Linked DNA regions of Homo sapiens. The protein of the gene in region 1 purifies or fractionates together with the protein of each later gene. This does not show direct contact. Each region holds a gene or a part of one and is shown on either strand. Other genes may lie near its edges.

The links. Proteins that work in one complex are often made in the same cells at the same time.
Region 2: the proteins of CREB3L3 (region 1) and NAF1 purify together in Homo sapiens (affinity purification with mass spectrometry; one large-scale study listed by BioGRID and IntAct). This does not show direct contact.
Region 3: the proteins of CREB3L3 (region 1) and KCNN4 purify together in Homo sapiens (affinity purification with mass spectrometry; one large-scale study listed by BioGRID and IntAct). This does not show direct contact.
Region 4: the proteins of CREB3L3 (region 1) and MAPK4 purify together in Homo sapiens (affinity purification with mass spectrometry; one large-scale study listed by BioGRID and IntAct). This does not show direct contact.

The regions. Positions count from the first base shown.
Region 1 is NC_000019.10:4,165,844-4,171,216, forward strand, and holds part of CREB3L3 (cyclic AMP-responsive element-binding protein 3-like protein 3), read left to right. Parts: intron 1-2,507; coding exon 2,508-2,614; intron 2,615-4,296; coding exon 4,297-4,365; intron 4,366-5,247; coding exon 5,248-5,332; intron 5,333-5,373. UniProt on the Homo sapiens protein: Transcription factor that may act during endoplasmic reticulum stress by activating unfolded protein response target genes. Activated in response to cAMP stimulation. In vitro, binds to the cAMP response element (CRE) and box-B element.
Region 2 is NC_000004.12:163,127,955-163,132,390, forward strand, and holds the end of NAF1 (H/ACA ribonucleoprotein complex non-core subunit NAF1), read right to left. Parts: intron 1,395-4,436; coding exon 943-1,394; 3' UTR 715-942; downstream 1-714. UniProt on the Homo sapiens protein: RNA-binding protein required for the maturation of box H/ACA snoRNPs complex and ribosome biogenesis.
Region 3 is NC_000019.10:43,773,538-43,777,973, forward strand, and holds part of KCNN4 (intermediate conductance calcium-activated potassium channel protein 4), read right to left. Parts: intron 3,100-4,436; coding exon 3,004-3,099; intron 1,083-3,003; coding exon 655-1,082; intron 364-654; exon of another isoform or gene 363-363; coding exon of another isoform or gene 266-362; exon of another isoform or gene 260-265; coding exon of another isoform or gene 249-259; intron 1-248. UniProt on the Homo sapiens protein: Intermediate conductance calcium-activated potassium channel that mediates the voltage-independent transmembrane transfer of potassium across the cell membrane through a constitutive interaction with calmodulin which binds the intracellular calcium allowing its opening.
Region 4 is NC_000018.10:50,717,087-50,721,522, forward strand, and holds part of MAPK4 (mitogen-activated protein kinase 4), read left to right. Parts: intron 1-4,436. UniProt on the Homo sapiens protein: Atypical MAPK protein. Phosphorylates microtubule-associated protein 2 (MAP2) and MAPKAPK5.

The DNA of each region.
Region 1 (5,373 bases):
TCCAGCCTGGGTGACAAGAGCGAAACTCTGTCAAAACAAAAACAAAAACAAAAAAACTAAAAACATAAACAAAACAAAATCCAAAAAACCAACTCAATTACTTGAATGTCCTCTGTTTCATATTCTCAAACCTCCATATGCACCAGTCAATGGCTGGGTAGCTGTTTGGGTTCTCTAGCTAACCACAGTCCCCACCCAGCCTGCTGCACTCAGTATCAATGCCTGAGTTTGATATTCTCATCTGTTTTTTTTTTTTTTCTATTGAGACAGGTTCTGACTCTGTTGCCCAGGCTGGAGTGGAGTGAGGTGATCTTGGCTCACTCCAACTTCCCCCTCTGGAGTACAAGTGATTCTCCCACATCAGCCTCCCTAGCAGCTGGGACTACAGGTGTATGCCATTATGCCTAGCTAATTTTTTTTTTTTTCCTGAGACGGAGTTTCGCTTTTGTTGCCCAGGCTGGAGTGCAGTGGCGCGATCTCGGCTCACTGCAACCTCCGCTTCCCAGGTTCAAGTGATTCTCCTGCCTCAGCCTCCTAAGTAGCTGGGATTACAGGCACGCGCCACCACGCCTGGCTAATTTTTTTTTTTTTTTTTTTTTTTGAGTAGAGACAGAGTTTCACCATGTTGGCCAGGATGGTCTCGATCTCTTGACCTTGTGATCTGCCCAGCTCAGCCTCCCAAAGTGTTGGGATTACAGGTGTGAGCCACTGCGCCCAGCATTTTTTTTTTTCCTTAGAGACAGGGTCTTGCTATGTTGCCCAGGCTGGTCTCAAACTCCTGGCCTCAAGCAGTCCTCTGACCTTGGCCTCCCAAAGTGTTAAGATTACAGGTGTGAGCCACCGTGCCTGGCCCCATCTGTTTCTATTGTTGTTGTTGTTTGTTTTGAGATAGGATCTCACTTTGTCGCTCAGGCTGGAGTGCAGTGGTACAATCTGCAGGTAGCAGCTAACTGCAACCTTGAACTCCTGGTCTCAAGGGATCCTCCTGCCTCAGCCTCCCAAGTAGCTGGGACTATAGGCATGCACCACCACACCCAGCTGATTTTGTGGTTGTTGTTTTGTTTTAGTAGAGACAGGGTCTTTACTAAATGTTGCCCAGTCTAGTCTTGAACTCCTGGACTTATGCGATCCTCTTGCCTTGGCCTCCCAAAGTGCTGGGATTACAGCACTGTGAACCACCGCGCCCAGCCTGACATTCCCATTTGAAGACACTTATTGGCCGGGTGTGGTGTCTCATGCCTGTAATCCCAGCTCTTTGGGAGGCAAAGATGGGCGGATCACCTGAGGTCAGGAGTTTGAGACCAGCCTGGCCAACATGGTGAAACCCTGTCTCTACTAAAAATACAAAAATTAGCCAGGCATGGTGTTGTGCACCTGTAATCCCAGCTACTTGGGAAGCTGGGGTGGGAGAATCACTTGAACCCTGGGGGTGGAGGTTGCAGTGAGCTGAGATCTTGCCACTGCACTCCAGCCTGGGTGACAAGAGCGAAACAAGAAAGAAAGAAAGAAAGAGAGAGAGAGAGAGAGAGAGAAAAGGAAGGAAAGAAAAGAAAGAAAGAAAGAAAGGAAAAGAAAGAAAAGAAAGAAAGAAAGGAAAGAAAGAAAGGAAGAAAAGAAGGAAAGAAAGGAAGAAAAGGAAAGAAAGAGAGAAAGAGAAAGAGAAAGAGAGAAAGAGAGAAAGGGAGAAAGGAAGGAAGGGAGGGAGGGAGGGAGGGAGGGGAAAAGAAAGGAAAGAAAAGAAAGAAACGTAAGAAAGAAGAAAAAAATTATTAATTAGTCTTAAAACACTTGCTGTCGCCAGGGAAAGGTGATGTTTCCAGGGATGGCCACAAGGTGGTGGAGTGGTACCCATGCCCAAAGTCTGGTGGGCAGTTGCCCATTTTACAGTATTGGGAGCTGGGAAAAGACCCTCAGAACCCAGGCACCTCCCAGAGACTCTGTGAGGGTTTGGGCAAAGGGTAGCTTCAAGTCATTAGGAATCTGCCTCTGGGTCCTTGGCTCCGGGATGTCTTGTATGCAAAGAGGATGGGGTGAAGTTGTGGGGTCGAGGTTAGGTGAAGTGGGGTCAGGACAGTGGGGACTGTCGCACCATCCCCAAAGTGAAGACTTTAATTTTTTAATTTTAATTATTTTATTTATTTATTTATTTATTTATTTATCTATTTATTTATTGAGATGGAGTTTCGCTCTTGTTGCCCAGGCTGGATTGCAATGGCACGATCTTGGCTCACTGCAACCTCCGCCTCCCGGGTTCATGCCATTCTCCTGCCTCAGCCTCCCGAGTAGCTGGGATTACAGGCACCCGCCACCATGCCTGGCTAATTTTTGTATTTTTAGTAGAGACGGTGTTTCACCATGTTGGCCAGGCTGGTCTCGAACTCCTGACCTCAGGTGATACGCCTGCCTCGGCCTCCCAAAGTGCTGGGATTACAGGCGAGAGCTACTGCCCCCGGACTCCAAGTGGGGACTTTCTGGCCTGAAACCCTCCTCCCCATTTCACTTGGCAGTACGAGGAGCGAGTGCTGAAAAAAATCCGCCGGAAAATCCGGAACAAGCAGTCGGCGCAAGAAAGCAGGAAGAAGAAGAAGGAATATATCGATGGCCTGGAGACTCGGTGGGTAGTGCTGGACCCAGACTCTACACTCGTGGAGGAAACTGAGGCCCAGAGAGAAGGAGATGTGGCTAAGGCCACACAGCTTAGAGTCTGACAAAATTGGAGGTGATTCTCCTCTCTGGGAGAGATCATGCTTCTTACTGATTGCAGGGATGGAAAGATGCCTAGTGATGGTGTAGGACAAGGGTTTGGGGGACCCTTTGCCCCCTAGAAGGTGTGCGGAAAAAGGACAAAGTGTGACCCATCCTATTCTGACCCTCTGCCTGAAGATAGACACTTCCTTTTTGTGTGTGTGGAAGGGTCTCCTTCTATCACCCAGGCTGGAGTGCAGTGGTGCGATCTTGGCTCACTGCAACCTCCACCTCCCGGGTTCAAGCGATTCTCCTGCCTCAGCCTCTCCAGAAGCTGGGATTACAGGTGCATGGCCACCACGCCCAGCTAATTTCTTTGTATTTTTGGTAGAGATGGGGTTTCACTGTGTTGCCCAGGCTAGTCTCAAACTCCTGACCTCAGGTGATCTGGCCGCCTCAGCCTCCCAAAGTGCTGGGATTACAGGCGTGAGCCACTGCGCCTGGTCTCTCCCCTTTCTTAAATGCAATCTGCTAAGCTCCTGATCATCTTTATCCAGGGTCATTCCCCCCACCACCCTATGTCCTGGGTAATTGTATCCCATTTTACAGACACAAAAGCTGAGATCAGAGAGTGGAGTGGCCCAAGGTCATGGGGAGAGGGAGAGATGAAACTTGAATCTCGGCCGGGCGCCGTGGCTCACACTTGTAATCCCAGCACTTTGGGAGGCTGAGGCAGGCGGATCACGAGTTCAGGAGATCGAGACCACGGTGAAACTCTGTCTTTACAAAAAATCCAAAAAAATTAACTGGGCTTGGTGGCGGGTGCCTGTAGTCCCAGCTACTCGGGAGGCTGAGGCAGGAGAATGGCGTGAACCCAGAAGGCAGAGCTTGCAGTGAGTCGAGATTGTGCCACTGCATTCCAGCCTGGGCGACAGAGCGAGACTCCATCTCAAAAAACAAACAAACAAAAAAAGAAACTTGAGTCTCCCAGGATGCCTGGTTGTCCTGATATTTCATCTTCTGGAAACATCACTGCCTGAATCTAGGAGGCTCAGCTTTTTTTTTTTTTTTTTTTTTTTTGACACAGAGTTTCATTCTTGTTGCCCAGGCTGGAGTGCAATGGTGCGATCTTGACTCACTGCAACCTCCACTTCCCGGGTTCAATCGATTCTCCTGCCTTAGCCTCCCAAGTTCCCAAGTAGCTGGAATTATAGGCGCCCACCACCACACCTGGCTAATTTTGCATTTTTAGTACAGGCAGGGTTTCACCATGTTGGCCAGGCTGGTCTTGAACTCCTGACCTCAGGTGATCCGCCCACCACGGCCTCCCAAAGTGCTGGGATTACAGGTGTGAACCACCACACCCATCCAGGGGGCTCAGCTTTGAATGAAGCCCCCTCCATATTAATGCAGAAATGGGACCTAGGAACCAGGCAGATGTGGGTTCAAATCCCAGCCCTGTCTGACCTGCCGAGTAACCTTGGATGAATGACTTCCCCTCTCTGGCCTTGGGTTCTCTTGGCTTGTAACGTGAGGCCTCTGGGGGAGATGTCAGTGGGGCCAGCTGGTGACTGGCATATGCTGAATGTCGATGCGTCTTCCTCCTTTCAGGATGTCAGCTTGCACTGCTCAGAATCAGGAGTTACAGAGGAAAGTCTTGCATCTCGAGAAGCAAAACCTGTGAGTCTGGGTCCAGCTGGGGCAGAGGACAGGGGAAGCAGCCCCAGAGTCCCTTTGCAGGAAGAGCAGAGAGCCCATGTGATGGCAGAATGACATAGGGAATAAGAGTTTTACCTATGGGCCGCGTGCAGTGGCTCACGCCTGTAATCTCAGCACTTTGGGAGGCCGAGGCGGGTGGATCACCTGAGGTCAGGAGTTCAAAACCAGCCTGGCCAACATGGTGAAACCCCGTCTCTACTAAAAATACAAAAAAATTAGCCAGGCGTGGTGGCGGGCACCTGCAGTCCCAGCTACTCGAGAGGCTGAGGCAGGAGAATTGCTTGAACTCGGGAGGCGGAGGTTGCCGTGAGCCGAGATCGCACCACTGCACTCCAGCCTGGGTGACAGAGCAAGGCTCTGTCTCAAAAATAAATAAATAAGGCCTGGTGTGGTGGCTCACGCCTGTAATCCCAGCACTTTGGGAGGCTGAGGTGGGCGGATCACAAGGTCGGGAGATCAAGACCATCCTGGCTAACACGGTGAAACCCCGTCTCTACTAAAAATACAAAAAAAATTAGCTGGGTGTGGTGGTGGGCGCCTGTAGTCCCAGCTACTCGGGAGGCTGAGGCAGGAGAATGGTGTGAACCTGGGAGGCGGAGCTTGCAGTGAGCTGCCATCCCACCACTCACTCCAGCCTGGGCGATGGAGCAAGACTCTGTCTCAAAATAAATAAATAAATAAATAAACAAATAAATAAATAAATAAAATAAATAATAAAGAGCCAGAGGCCCTTGAAGAATGGATGGAATTTGGACTTTAGCGGGGCTGGGGGACCCCGGAAATGGACGAGAAGCAGAACCGAGGCCCTTTAGGGCTCAGCGGAGGCCTGCCTGTCTCTCTAAGGTCCCTCTTGGAGCAACTGAAGAAACTCCAGGCCATTGTGGTGCAGTCCACCAGCAAGTCAGCCCAGACAGGCACCTGTGTCGCAGTGAGTCCTGGTGCCCCCAGGCAAGCCGGGGACCTAGGCTT
Region 2 (4,436 bases), on another chromosome or scaffold:
TCTTAGTTAAATTATTTTAACCTCTTTGGAACACTTAGGCTCCTCATTTACTAAATGAAAACTGGAGTATTTCAATGGTCTCTTCTAGTTCTAAAACTCATAATTTCCCTTACATTGACACTTCATAATATAAAGCAGTAGTCATTACTCATTTAATTAAAAACTCTTAATTCAGATATTCAATAACTATTTGTTATTTATGGAACCTAGTCTGCATGTGAGGATCTGGAAAACAAATATGGAAGACAAAATCCCTAAATAGATCTTATTGTGAATAATCTTTGCATCCCTTTTAGGAGGTTAAATAGTAAAGCCTTCTGAACAGTGCCCAAATAAAGGAATTATTTTGCACAGATAATGGAAGCTTGCCTATGCATAATAAATATTTTTTACTTTAGCTATAATCAGAGCTTCTACCAATATATAAGAATTTTCTCCTCTATATCCCTCAACTGCTTTAAAAAGAAAAATTATGGTCATTTAAACTTACTCACAAATTACATTTATAATTAAAATTGATTTCCAAAGTATAAATTTATAAAAATAGTTTAAAGACTCTCAAAAGGACTTCATCTTATATTCAGATTATAGCAAGAAAATCAATGTGCTCCATATATTTTACCCATGATGAAACTTGTCCCATATCCATTACTATATATATATATATATAGTTTAACTGGGTGGGGTTGGGAGGGAGAAGGCATGAATTCAAAATTTTAATTAAATATTACATAATTTAATGTTCTCCCAAGAATTTGAGCTGACATTTTCATATGAATACAATTTCACAAAGGTTACAAATATATATCAACTTACAACAGAAGGAATCATTTAGTATTTTACAGTGTTTTTAAAAATCTAGCTCCATAATCACTCTTGAAAAAAAAAAATCCTTACCACATAATATGAAAAGTCCACATTTCTCTGGAAATGCATAGTCACCTAATAGTAAGGTCCAAAATGAGAATTACTATCTCCAGAAGAGGGTGGAGGAGGCAGTGGTGGAGGGGGAGGGGGTGGGGGTAGGGAGTATGGTAAGTTAAGTAATGGATGAGCAGCCATGTTTGGTGTAGCCCAACCCATGTTTACAGGTGGGGGTGGTGGTGGGGGTGGAGGGCGGAGGGGAAAATTATGCATGTCAAACACTGGAAGAGGAAAGGGGTATTGTGGCATAATGGGATTATTTTGTCTCTGAGAAGGAAATCCTGAAGTCTCCTGAGATACCATATGTTCTGAGTTATAGAAATGCTGAGGTGGAGGCCTGCCATGGCAAGATCGAGGGTATCTGGCCCTGGAAAATCCTCGTGTGAATTCTCTGTTACGATATCCTTTTGCATGCTCTGAAGCAGAGCTATGAGCATTCCAATTCTGATGTACTTCAGTAAAATCTTCACCTTTGAGTGAGGGGAGGGAAAACATAAAAAGGAAAATAAGTTTAATATATCAAAAAGCATTGTTTGAAATTTCAATTATGATTTTTATTATCCAGTATATCTTGTGGCAGTTAAAAAAGTGTAAGACATAAAATGGTAAATTTGAAATGAACTGAAAAGACAAAACTTAATGCCAAAGAAAGAGAACCCAGCAAGTCAGAAAACACTTAGATGATAACCATTCTACTCTAGCCAAACACCACAGAAGAAAATGTGGCACCATCCCTACACACTCTCAAAGGCTGAGTACAGATCCTAGACTTCTATCCTTGACAGGCAGTAATGAGGTACTCCAACCCTTCCACCACAGTAGCATCAGGAACAGGCTGAACAGGGTGCCAGTAACAAGCCTCCCTGCAAACAATGAACATCACATGGGGAACCTGAACTTCCACCTCCACTGGCGGCAACCCAGTGTTCTTCCCTCTTTTACACTGGGGCAATGTCAGAGAAGATGGAGTAGAGTTAGGATTTTTGTCCCCAACCAGTGATAACAAGGCCATCCTCCACTGGTGTCAGTGCATACCATATGGGGAGGAGTGACAAAGTACTCCTGTCCCTACCAGGCATAAGACCTCGTGGGATGTCAGAACTTCTACCCTCATCCAGCAGTAACAAGGCACCCCTTGGCCAAAGGTGTCAACAGAGGCTAAGAGGAATACCTAGACTTCAATCTACCCTGTTCCTTTCGCTGCCAGAGTAGCATTTTTAAAAAGACAAAGAAACAATCACAACAAACCCAGCTAAATCAGAAGATTTACATAAGATCCATGGTCTTGTAATATAATACTCAATATACCCAGGTTGCAATAAAAGAAAATTGCTCATCACAAAAAGAACCAGGAAGACTTCAAATTCAATGAAAAAAATAAATCAAGCAAGGGTGTCACAAAGATGTTAGAATTATGAAAGGTATTAAAGCAGTCATAAAAATGCTTCAACAAGATATTATGAACATTCTAAAAAATTAAAATTACAAAGTTTTAGGAAAAAAAGAAGATATAAAATAAAGAACAAATTGCAATTTTAGAACTGAACATTACAATAACCAAAATTAAAAACTCAATGGAACAATATTGAAGGAGAAGAACAAAGCTGGAGGACGGAAACTACCCAACTTCAAGACGTATTATAAAGTTTAAGTAATCACAGCAGTGTGGTACTGGTGAAAGGACACACAAATAAATCAATGGGACAAAATAGAAGGTACAAAAATAGACCCACATAAACATACAAAAATAGACCCACATAAACATAATAAACGGATATTTAACGAAGGAGCAAAAGCAATACAACAGAGCATAAGTAGTGTTTTCAACAAATGGGGCTGGAACACCTGGACATCCACATGCAAAAAGAATAAATCTAGACAATAACCTTACACCGTTCACAAGAATTAATTCAAAATGGACCACAGACCTCAATGTAAAATGCAGAATTACAAAATTCCTAAAAGATAACATAGAAGAAAATTTAGACAACCTTGGGTTGATAATGACTCTTTTTTTAGAGACGGAGTCTCGCTCTGTAGCCCTGGCTGGAGTGCAGTGGCACGATCTCAGCTCACTGCAACCTCCGCTGCCCGGGTCCCAGCTGACGCAATTCTCCTGCCTCAGCCTCCCAAGTAGGAATGCGCCACCATGCCCAGCTAATTTTTGTATTTTTAGTAGAGATGGGGTTTCACCATGTTGACCAGGCTGGTCTTGAACTCCTGACTTCCTGATCTGCCTGCCTCGGCCTCCCAAAGTGCTGGGATTACAGGCATTGGGCCACTGCGCTCGGCCAATAATGACTTTTTAGATAATGACTTCTTAGATAGGACATCAAAGGCATGACCCATGAAAGAAATAATCAATATGCTGAATTTCATTAAACTTAACAATTTCTGCTCCACGAAAGATACTATCAGGAGAATGAAAGAAAAAAGCTCAGAAGTTCAAGGTTACAGTGAGCTATGATTGTACCACTGCATTCTAGCCTGGGCAACAGAGCAAGAATATCTCAAAAAACAGACAAAAACAAAAACAAAAACAAAAAAACCTCAGCAAGACATTTGTTGATGTAGAGAAGATTCTAAAATTTATACTGAAAGGTAAAGGACCTAGAATACCGATTATAATTTTGAAAAAGAGAAATAAAGTAGGAGTTATCACTCCACGCAATTTTAAGACTAACCTCACATTCTATACAAAATTTAACTCAAAATGAATCACAAGTGTACAATTTAAAACAGAAGACTACAAAACTTTTAGGGAAAAAATAGAAGAAAATCATTAGGATCTAAAGCTAAGCAGGAAGTTCTCAGATTCCATAAACAAAATTGATAAATTAGTTTTCCTCAAAACTAAAAACTTTAGTATTGCAAAAGGCCATCTTAAAAGAAGGAAAAGACTACAGACTAGAACAAATCATGAACGAACCAAATATTTGACAGAAAGCTAGTATCTAAAATATACATTTTTAAATTCTCGTAACTCGACAGTAAAAATCCAGCAATACAATTTAAAAGTTGGCAAAAGATAATGAACTGACATATCACTGAAGATACCGATAGTAAATGAACACATGGAAAGATGTTCAATGCCATTAGCCATTAGGAAAATGCAAATTAAAACCACAATTATATTAGCACTACAAACCTAGCAGAATGGCCAAAATTAAAAACAGTGATAACACCAAATGCTGGAGAAAATGCAAAGAAATTGTCACTCATACATCGCTGATAAAAATGTAAAATGGTATAGCCATGCTGAAGAACAGTATGGTAGTTTCTTAGGAAACTAAACATGTAATGCAACTATTATACAACCAAGCAATTATACTCTTGGGCATTTATTCCAGAAAAATGAAAACCTCTTTTCACAAAAAACCTGTATATAAATATTTATAGCTGCTTTATTCCTAATAACCCCAAAATGGAAACAACCTAGATGTCCTTCAATGGATGAATGGTTAGGTAATCTGGTAAATTCATGCCATGAAATGTTACTCTGTAATGAAGAG
Region 3 (4,436 bases), about 40 Mb from region 1:
AGGGACCTGAGAGTTTTCATTTGCAAGTTCCCAGGTGATGCTGCTGGTCTTGAAATCACACTTTGAGGACCACTGGCTGAGATCACTCCCAACCTCGTTTTTCTCTGAAAGGGATAGAAATTGAGGCGCGGCATCGGGTTACACAGTATCTAGCTGGCAACCAGGATCTAGTTCCAATTCCCTGCTTGGAATTATTTTCCAGAGCAGTTCCAAATCATCCCCTTCCTAGGATCACAAAAAGCACCTACCTACAGTGCATTCCGTGCTAATTGGGAAAATATGTCTCCTTCCTCCAAGGCAGAGGCAACCCTTTAGGCAGGTCCCAGAGATAGGTTCGGAGACCGAACAGATGGCCTGTAAACCTGAGGCAGAGGTCAGGCAGCCGGAAGGGAGGGGCTTTCTAGGGTCTGTGTGTGCGTTTGGGGAGACTGAAGGCTGCAGGTGGAGGATTGGCTGGGGGCTTGTCTGTTGGTTCCTCTCACCCCAGTTGATGGGAGTGTGGGCAAATTTCAGCCAGCAAGAGGAGAAGGGGTCAAAGTGTGAACTTTCTCCACTGCTTGGTCCTAGGGGGCCTCAACCTGCACCGCGGCACAGGACGGCCGCCGTGGCTGTCCGGGGTTCCCCCCTGCGCATTTATGCCTCCATCACCCTCACCTCTCGGCCACGGACAGCACCCAGGCGGTGGTCAGCCAGAGGCCAAGCGTGAGGCCGAGCAGCAGGCGGCCAGGGTGCGTGTTCATGTAAAGCTTGGCCACGAACCAGTGGCGGAAGCGGACTTGATTGAGAGCGCCGATGCTGCGGTAGGAAGCGTTGAGCAGGACGCCGCTGCGCAGGAGCACGGCGCGGGGCACCAGGTAGAGACGCAGCAGCATGGCCAGGGACAGCAGCGCTTCCCCTTGGCCCAGGAATCCCGGCCAGGGCTGCGGGGAGGTCAGCGGCGCCCCTAAATCCTGCACGCACGGCGGGCCCCGCACGGGCGCCGGGTGCAGCCCACACACCACCAGCTCCAGCACGATCTGCGCCGCCTGCCGCCCGGTCAGCGCCACGCGCCAGTCCCGCAGCCCGTTGTCGGTCATGAACAGCTGCCGGTAGGGGGCCAAGAAGGGAGGGGTCAGGAGCAGGTCAGGCGCAGGTCAGGCGGCGGCCCGCGCCTGCCTGCGCCCTGAGATAAGTGGGGTGTGCCGCCTGGCCAGGAGGGAGGGAGTGCAGGGCGGGAGAGGGATAGGGAGGGAGCGGGACAGGACTTGAGGAAGACATCTTTCCACTTTTTCCTCCTTCCCCACCACCCACCCCACTAGTTTCAGCCCACTTCCAGCCTTTGAACACTGACTGAGCGCCGACTGTGTGCCTGACATTGTTCTATGTGCTAAGGATACACAGTGAACCCAACAGACCCCCCTGCCTCCCTAGAGCTTGCATTCCACATGCCTGGAGCTCGCTCCTACTCCCCTTTCGGTTGACACGCGTAATAACTGTAATAATAATATCAGCAATAACAAAGCCATGGGCCGGGCGCGATGGCTTACGCCTGTAATCCCAGCACTTTGGGAGGCTGCGGTGGGTGGATCACTTGAGGTCAAGAGTTTGAGACAAGCCTGGCCAACATGGTGAAACTCCATCTCTACTGAAAAATACAAAAATAAGCCGGGCATGGTGGCGCACACCTATAGTCCCAGCTTCTGGGGAGTCTGAGGTAGGAGAATCACTTGAACCCAGGAGGCAGAGGTTGCAGTGAGCTGAGGTCATGCCACTGCACTCTAGCCTGGGTGACAGAGCGAGACTCCATCTCAAAATAAACAAAACAATAACAATAACAAAATCAGCATGTACTGGGCACCGTGGATACGCCAGGTACTGCTCTATCCCGTTTACATATTGTGACTTAGTAAATGCCCACAACCCAGTGAGATTGATATTATTATTGCCCCCATTTTATAGATGTGGAAGCTGAGGCCCAGGTCCCTTCCATGGGCAATGGCGCACTGGGCTACAGGCTACTTAGCTACTCTATGATAAGATGATAATGTGCACTGTTTACTGAGCACCTCTTATGTGCCAGGCACTGCTCATAGAATTGCCACACATGGCCAATAATCCCCATTTTACATGCAAAGTTATGATAGGAGAGGGGGAAGAGGGGAAAGGGAATGGAGCAACAGGATCTGGGGCAATGGGACAATAGGGGATGGGATGTGTCTGGGTGAGACCCAAGGTGGGGTATGGATGGGGAGAGCTCCTGGGTCTGGGGCAAGAGGGAGGTTATTGGCACAGAGATAGGGTGATTAGGAGTGGGCACCCCTGGGACCGGACCAGGTGCAGTGGCTCAAGCCCGTAATCCTAGCACTTTGGGAGGACAAGGTGGGCAGACTGCTTGAGCTCAGTAGTTGGAGACCAGCCTGGACAACATAGTGAAACCCCGTTTCTACTAAAATACAAAAAAATTAGCTGGGCGTGGTGGCATCTGCCTGTAGTCACAGCTACTTGGGAGGCTGAGGCATGAGAATTGTTTGAACCCAGGAGGTGGAGGTTGCAGTGAGCAGAGATCGTGCCACTCCACTCTAGCCTGGGCAACAGAGCAAGACCTTGTCTCAAAAAAAAAAAAAAAAAAAAAAAAAAAAAGGAGTGGGCAGCCCTAGGACCTTAGGTTGCTTGAGGACTGGATTGGGGATGCCATGTCGGAGCACAGAGATCTGGGAAGCTGAGTGCCTGGGAGCAGAGTGGACAGAGGCCTGGGGGCGGAAGCAGGGCTGCAAGGGCACTCTCAGCATCCGTGAGTGTGCAAGGGGGGGCTGGGGACTACAGGGGAAGGCGGAGCTGGTGGGGGAGGCTCTGCCTGTCTGCTCATGGTTCATCCCATCTGGGTAGGTGAGGGTGTGGACGCAGCACCTAGGGCAGAAGAACTTCATTACTCAGATCAGGAGGAGGAGGAGGGTGGAAAGTGTGAGCTGACAGGGCGCTGAGGGGGTTGGAGGGAGCAAGGCTTAGGGGCGGGGCCTGCCCTACCTGGACCTCTTTGGCATGAAAGGCCACGATGAGGCAGAGGAGTAAGAAGGTGGAAATGCTGATCGTGCATTTAACCAGGAACAGGTAGAGCGCCCACTGTCAGGGGGGACGGAAAAAGCGGTGTGAGATCCCAGGTCTCCCTCCGCCTGGCCCTCCACCTTTCCTTCAAAACCACCATTTTTTTTTTTTGATTCCCAATTTTCCTAGCCTCCTTCCCCTGCAAATCAGTCCCTCTTGATGTGTCGGTTCTGGAGAAGTCTCAAAACCATCATCTGGGCCCAGTGCGGTGGCTCACACCTGTAATCCCAACACTCTGGGAGGCTGAGGCAGGTGGATCACCGAAGGTCGGGAGTTTGAGACCCCCTGGCCAACATGGTGAAACCCAGTCTCTACTAAAAAAACAAAAAATTAGCTGGGTGTGTAATCCCAGCTACTTGGGAGGCTGAGGAACCAGAATCTTGAACCCAGGAGGTGGAAGTTGCAGTGAGCTGAGAGATCGCGCCACTGCACTCCAGCCTGGGCAACAGAGCGAGTCTCCGTCTCGAAACAAGCAAGCAAGCAAACAAACAAACAAAAAAACACCATCATCTGGTCCCCAGGAATGCTCTCTTTCTCCCCAACAGGACAACCCTGTCCAGATGCTGGTGTCTACCCTCTTCCTCAGCTCTTCTCCCAAGACCCATACCCATGAAGGGGGACCTTGAAACTCACATTCCTTCTTATTCCTGTCCCATTTCACATCAAAAATAGTTCTTCAGGTGTGTGTGTGTGTGTGTGTGTGTGTGGGTGTGTGTGTGTGGTGTCTAGAAAAAGACATCTAGCCTCTAGAGAGTGCCCCCTCCCCTTCCCTTCCTACCCACCTGGTGTTGTCCTAGAAACCAACTTCAATCAACCCCAACCCCAGATCTGGAAGAATGTAGAAACTACCATTCAATCCTCAAAGACTGAGTCACACCCTTCTCTGCTCTCATCCGGAGGGCTGAGTCCCTGAGACCCAGCCTCAGCTCTGAGACAGCCCCCTCGGTTCTGCCCCCCTGCAGCTCCCCACTGCCACCCCTCTCTTCTGGCTCTAAGCCCAGGGCAGATCTGGCCGGAAGCACAGGGCCTCCAGAAACCACGGAGAAATTGTTCCTTTTTTTTTTTTTCCTCTCTTTGTGTGGCACAACCTTGGAGGAATCTAGAATTCTGGAGAGAGGGATTTAGAGGGGACTGGGACTGTTGGATTTCCTAAGAGGGGTTGGTCCCTGCCTGGCGGGTATTTGCAGGGGGAGGGGACCACCTGGGCGTCCTTACAAAGCATTGCACCTGTTTCTCCTAAGAGGGCTGCCAGCTCCCCTGGCTGGGCCAGCATCCCGCCTCTGAGCAGGGGAAGAGGGCCAGTTTCCTGCCCCAGGGGCCTGCTCCCCAACCCCCTATCAGAACAATAGTGCTGT
Region 4 (4,436 bases), on another chromosome or scaffold:
TGTGAGGCTGATGTGACTCACTTATCTACTATCCTGACACAGAGCCCCACATCCTCAGTTCCTGGGACACTCACTGCCCTTGTTGTCAGCCTGTCCTCCCCACATCCACCCTGGACTTTGTGTCATCACCCAGAACTGCTCAGGGGAGGAGAGATCTGAAGCGAGTATCAGAGTGGCAGACGCTGGGGAGCTGAGTGTCCAGGGAATGGAAAAGGGCACGAAAGCTGGAAGGCCTGAGAAGTACCCACCCACCTCCTTGCTTGATCATGACTGCAGTGTGGCCCAGGGGGAGCGTGTTTTCTCTTGGCAATCAGCTTACAGGAGGCATGGCCAGCACTCATGGCCTGCATTGGTAGGCCTAGGCTCCTGGGGCTACCCCACACTTCCATGTTGGGAAGGGAGGGGGAGAGTGAGGGAGTAGGATAGCCTTACCCCAGCCCCCTTTCAGAACCCCAAGACCTAGTAAGATTCCCCCCACTAAAGCCCCTGAATCCCACAAAATATAAGACAGCAGTGGCCCTTCTAGTATCCCCTAAGAGCAAAGGTGTGTCCTTAGCATCCATGTGGGCTCCCTCCACCCTGAAATCTCTGTCTACAAACCTGAGCCTGCAAGTGGCAGGGCTAATCAAGATTCCCTGTGGCCCCACGGGGAGCCGACAATCTCAGTTGCTGGCCTGTTGTTCTTGTTCACTGTAGAGTGACCACATATGGGCAGCTGGTGTAATAATTAGCTCATGGGCACTGCAGACCACCTAAGCCCACAGGTGAAAAGGAGCTGCCCACTCACCTGTCAAAGCCCCTGGCTCTCACAGCTGCTCATCTGCTGTGTGCACAGAACATAGTGCTAAGGATGGGGAGAGGGATTGCTGTGGGACAAAGGGACAGTGAGGAGGCAGGGGGAGAAAGTCAGACAAGGGCCTCTCCAGGGAACTTATGGTCTTGAGACAGAATTTTAGATGCCAGCCCTAGAAGGGGCCCAGGACAGCCCACCTCTTTTTTAACAGGTGATTTGGTTTCAAATAATGCAGGGTGGGAAAATGAGCCCAGAGAAGAAGAAATGGCTAACAGTGGCCTTTCTGAGGGAACACCAGCAGGACATTAAGAGAAAGCCATGTCTGAATAGCTAAGAAAGTCTTTATTGTGTTTTGTTTTTGAGACAGTCTCGTGCTGTCCCCCAGGCTGGAGTGCAACGGCATGATCTTGGCTCACTGCAACCTCCACCCCCCATTTCAAGCGATTCTCATGTCTCAGCCTCCCGAGTAGCTGGGATTACAGGCATGTGCCACCACACCCAGCTAATTTTGTATTTATAGTAGAGACGGAGTTTTGCCATGTTGGCCAGGCTGGTCTCAAACTCCTGACCTCAAATGATCCACCTGCCTCAGCCTCCCAAAGTGCTGGGATTACAGGCATGAGCCACTGCACCCAGCCTGCCAAGAAAATATTTATATTGGGCACAGTTAAATCTTAGGCACCATAGGAGCAGATTTATCTAATAAGGAGTAATGAGAGACCCAGAAAATGTAATCTCTCAATCACAGCAATGAGGGAATTATTCAGTGCTATGCTGGGCTAGTCACTCTTTCATTCATGATGCTAACTTCTTCCAGTAAGTATTTAAAATACATGCTATATATAAAACATATATTAATATGATATGTTAATATTAATTATATGTTAATGTAACATTAAGTAACAAGAAAAGGTAAAATAGGTTGGGCATGGTGGTTCATGTCTGTAATCCCAGCACTTTGGGAGGCCGAGGTGGGCGGATTGCCTGAGGTCAGGAGCTCCAGACCAGTCTGGCCAACATGGTGGAACCCCGTCTCTACTAAAAATACAAAAAAATTAGCTGGGCGTGGTGGCATGCACCTGTAATCCCAGCTACTTGGGAGGCTAAGACAGGGGAATTGCTTGAACCAGGACGGTGGAGGTTCCAGTGAGCCGAGATCGTGCCACTGCACTCCAGCCTGGGCGACAGAGCAAGACTCCACCTCAAAAAAAAAAAAAAAAAGGTAAAATAAAAACAATGGCAGGAAAGTCAGATGAAGCTGAAGTCAGGGCTTATGTCCAAACATTTAGGCCCTGAGTACAAACGTCTTCATTTGCCCCCTGGACTCTCAGGAGCCCCTACAGTTTTCCCTCTGGTGGATTTTGTGCTTTGGGTGGATCCTTGACCACGTGCTGGGGATACAAGTCTGAGTAAGACATAGTCTCTGTCCTCAAAGGTCTGATGGTCCAGCAGGGGACACAAAAGGGTTAAAAACAAAACAAAAAAAAATACACAGTGAACCTATCTGTGCCCAGGGTGAGCCATCCTGCTATCTTATTTTTCCAACTGAAATTGCACAGACCTCCCAGTTCCGTATTTTCCAGCCAATTCAAGGCAGGGGAGAAAGGAGGAACAGGTGGGAGGGAGGTCTCGCCCTGGACTCTGACTCAAAGACTCTTCCCACCCTAGCCATAGCCACTAAACCCTGGATGGCTCAACATCTCTGGCCCTGCCCCCACGATCTGGGTCATAGGTGCCTGGCTGCCTCCATTCTCCCAGCCTTGAACCCTCAGCTCACAGGGCTGTGCTCCAGCTGCCCTTCCAACAGGCTGACAACCTTCAGGCCAGACGGAGAAGAGCTGGGCTTCTCCATACCACAGCAGGCAGGTGACTCACTGAGAGCCCAGACGAGACTGTATAATCCACAGTCTATTGGCCTCTCATCTTCAGGCTCACTGTCTGTGGTCACGAGATGGTCGCAATCGCTTTCAGGTTCTCATGCAGAAGTGTCCAACGAAGAAAGGTAGGGAGGGGTCAGCCAGGGCAGCCAAACAGCTCTCCTCACATTTCTCTCTTACCAGGGAGGAACACCTTCCCCGGAAGTCCTTCCAGGAGATTCCTGTCCCTGTTTGATTGAATCACATGGCCTCCCCTTATTGCAAGAGAGGCAGGGAAGGCAACAGCTGGTGTGACATGGAAAGGACCTTCTTTCAGTAGGAAAGGGACATTGACCATAGTATCCTCCATGCTTCACACCTTCTCCCATTTTCAGTGGTGGCTTAGTAGACTCAGTGTTAAGATGCCTCCCCCAAGTGACGTCTGTCACAAAGAATCACTCACGGATGATTAGGACATAAATCCCCAAGGTGGAATTATTCCATCAGCTTCTCTCAAAGCCACTCTTCCCCACTCCTAGAAGCAAAGGAAGTCAAGAGTTATTAAACATCTGCTACAAGCAAGGTATTTCTCCCGGAGCCTTCATCTGCCAACACACTTGACTCCTTATAATACTCATTCCAAGTATAAATAATCATCCTCATTCCACAAGGGGTGGGGGAGCTAGGTCTGCCTCCAGGGCTGTCTGCCACCAAAGCTCTTGCTTTCCGCCCCAGGCCATGGATTCCCAGGGAGGCCCCACTGGCTGCCTCCCATATGACACCATTGATCTCGGGCAGGAGCAGACAAGTGAAAGAGGCTCATTCTCTGCCCCCACCCCCGCTGTGGTTGAAGAAGCTACTCCAAGCAGAAGGTTGTGTATTACTAGTTTGTGTGTCACACAGGAGAGGGGTCAGGGGCTTGGGAGCAAGGTCCCACCATCTCTGTCTGCAGCTTGATCACCCATTGACCTCATGGTCCCCTGGTGGGTGGTGTGGAGTACACATTTGGAGAGAGGACCCCACAGGGGGCTTCCAGAGCCCTGAACTGACCCAATGAGTCCACTGCAGGGAGAGGCCAAAAGGACCTCTTCAGGAGAGAGCCTGAGGCTGCAGGCACTTCTTCGGTCAGTATTCACATGTGCTTAGGGCCACACAGGGAACTGTGGGGGCACCTGGGAGAGCCCTCATCCTAGGCTGGATGACTGGAAGACTGGAATCCCATGGGAATTCATGGCAAGGGGAGGGCCCTCTGTGCAGCTGGATGGGCAGGGAAGACTTCTTGAGGAAGGAGAGGTATGGCTGAAGTTTTAACCTAGTACAGCTAAGTGGAAAGGCAACTCAATCAAAAAAGAGAAAATGGAAGTACAGAAGAACAGCCTGGAGGTCAGAGAAGGACAGCAAGGAGACCCATCTGTCCAGAGCCAGAAATGCCATACGGTGGCCAGTGGTTGTCTGGGTGTGGGAGGTGAGTTGAGTTTCTGAGACAAAGACTGAAGCTTCTTATGAATGAAAACTATGCCTCACCGATTCCCAGCAGTCAGCGTGATGCCTGGCATGGAGAAGGTGCTCGATAAATAACTATTTATGGAATGAGGGAATAAATGAATGTTTGAGTCCATCCTGTCCCACCAAAGTGCCCCTGCAAACCTGGCATAGCCTGGCCTGCCTTCCTTCTCCCAAGGATCACAGAGGCCATGTGCTCAAGATACATCCCAAACCCAATTTGTTATTCCTGATTTGTTTTTCTCTTGAAAGTTTCCTAGATGGAACCCTCTTAATTAGAAACC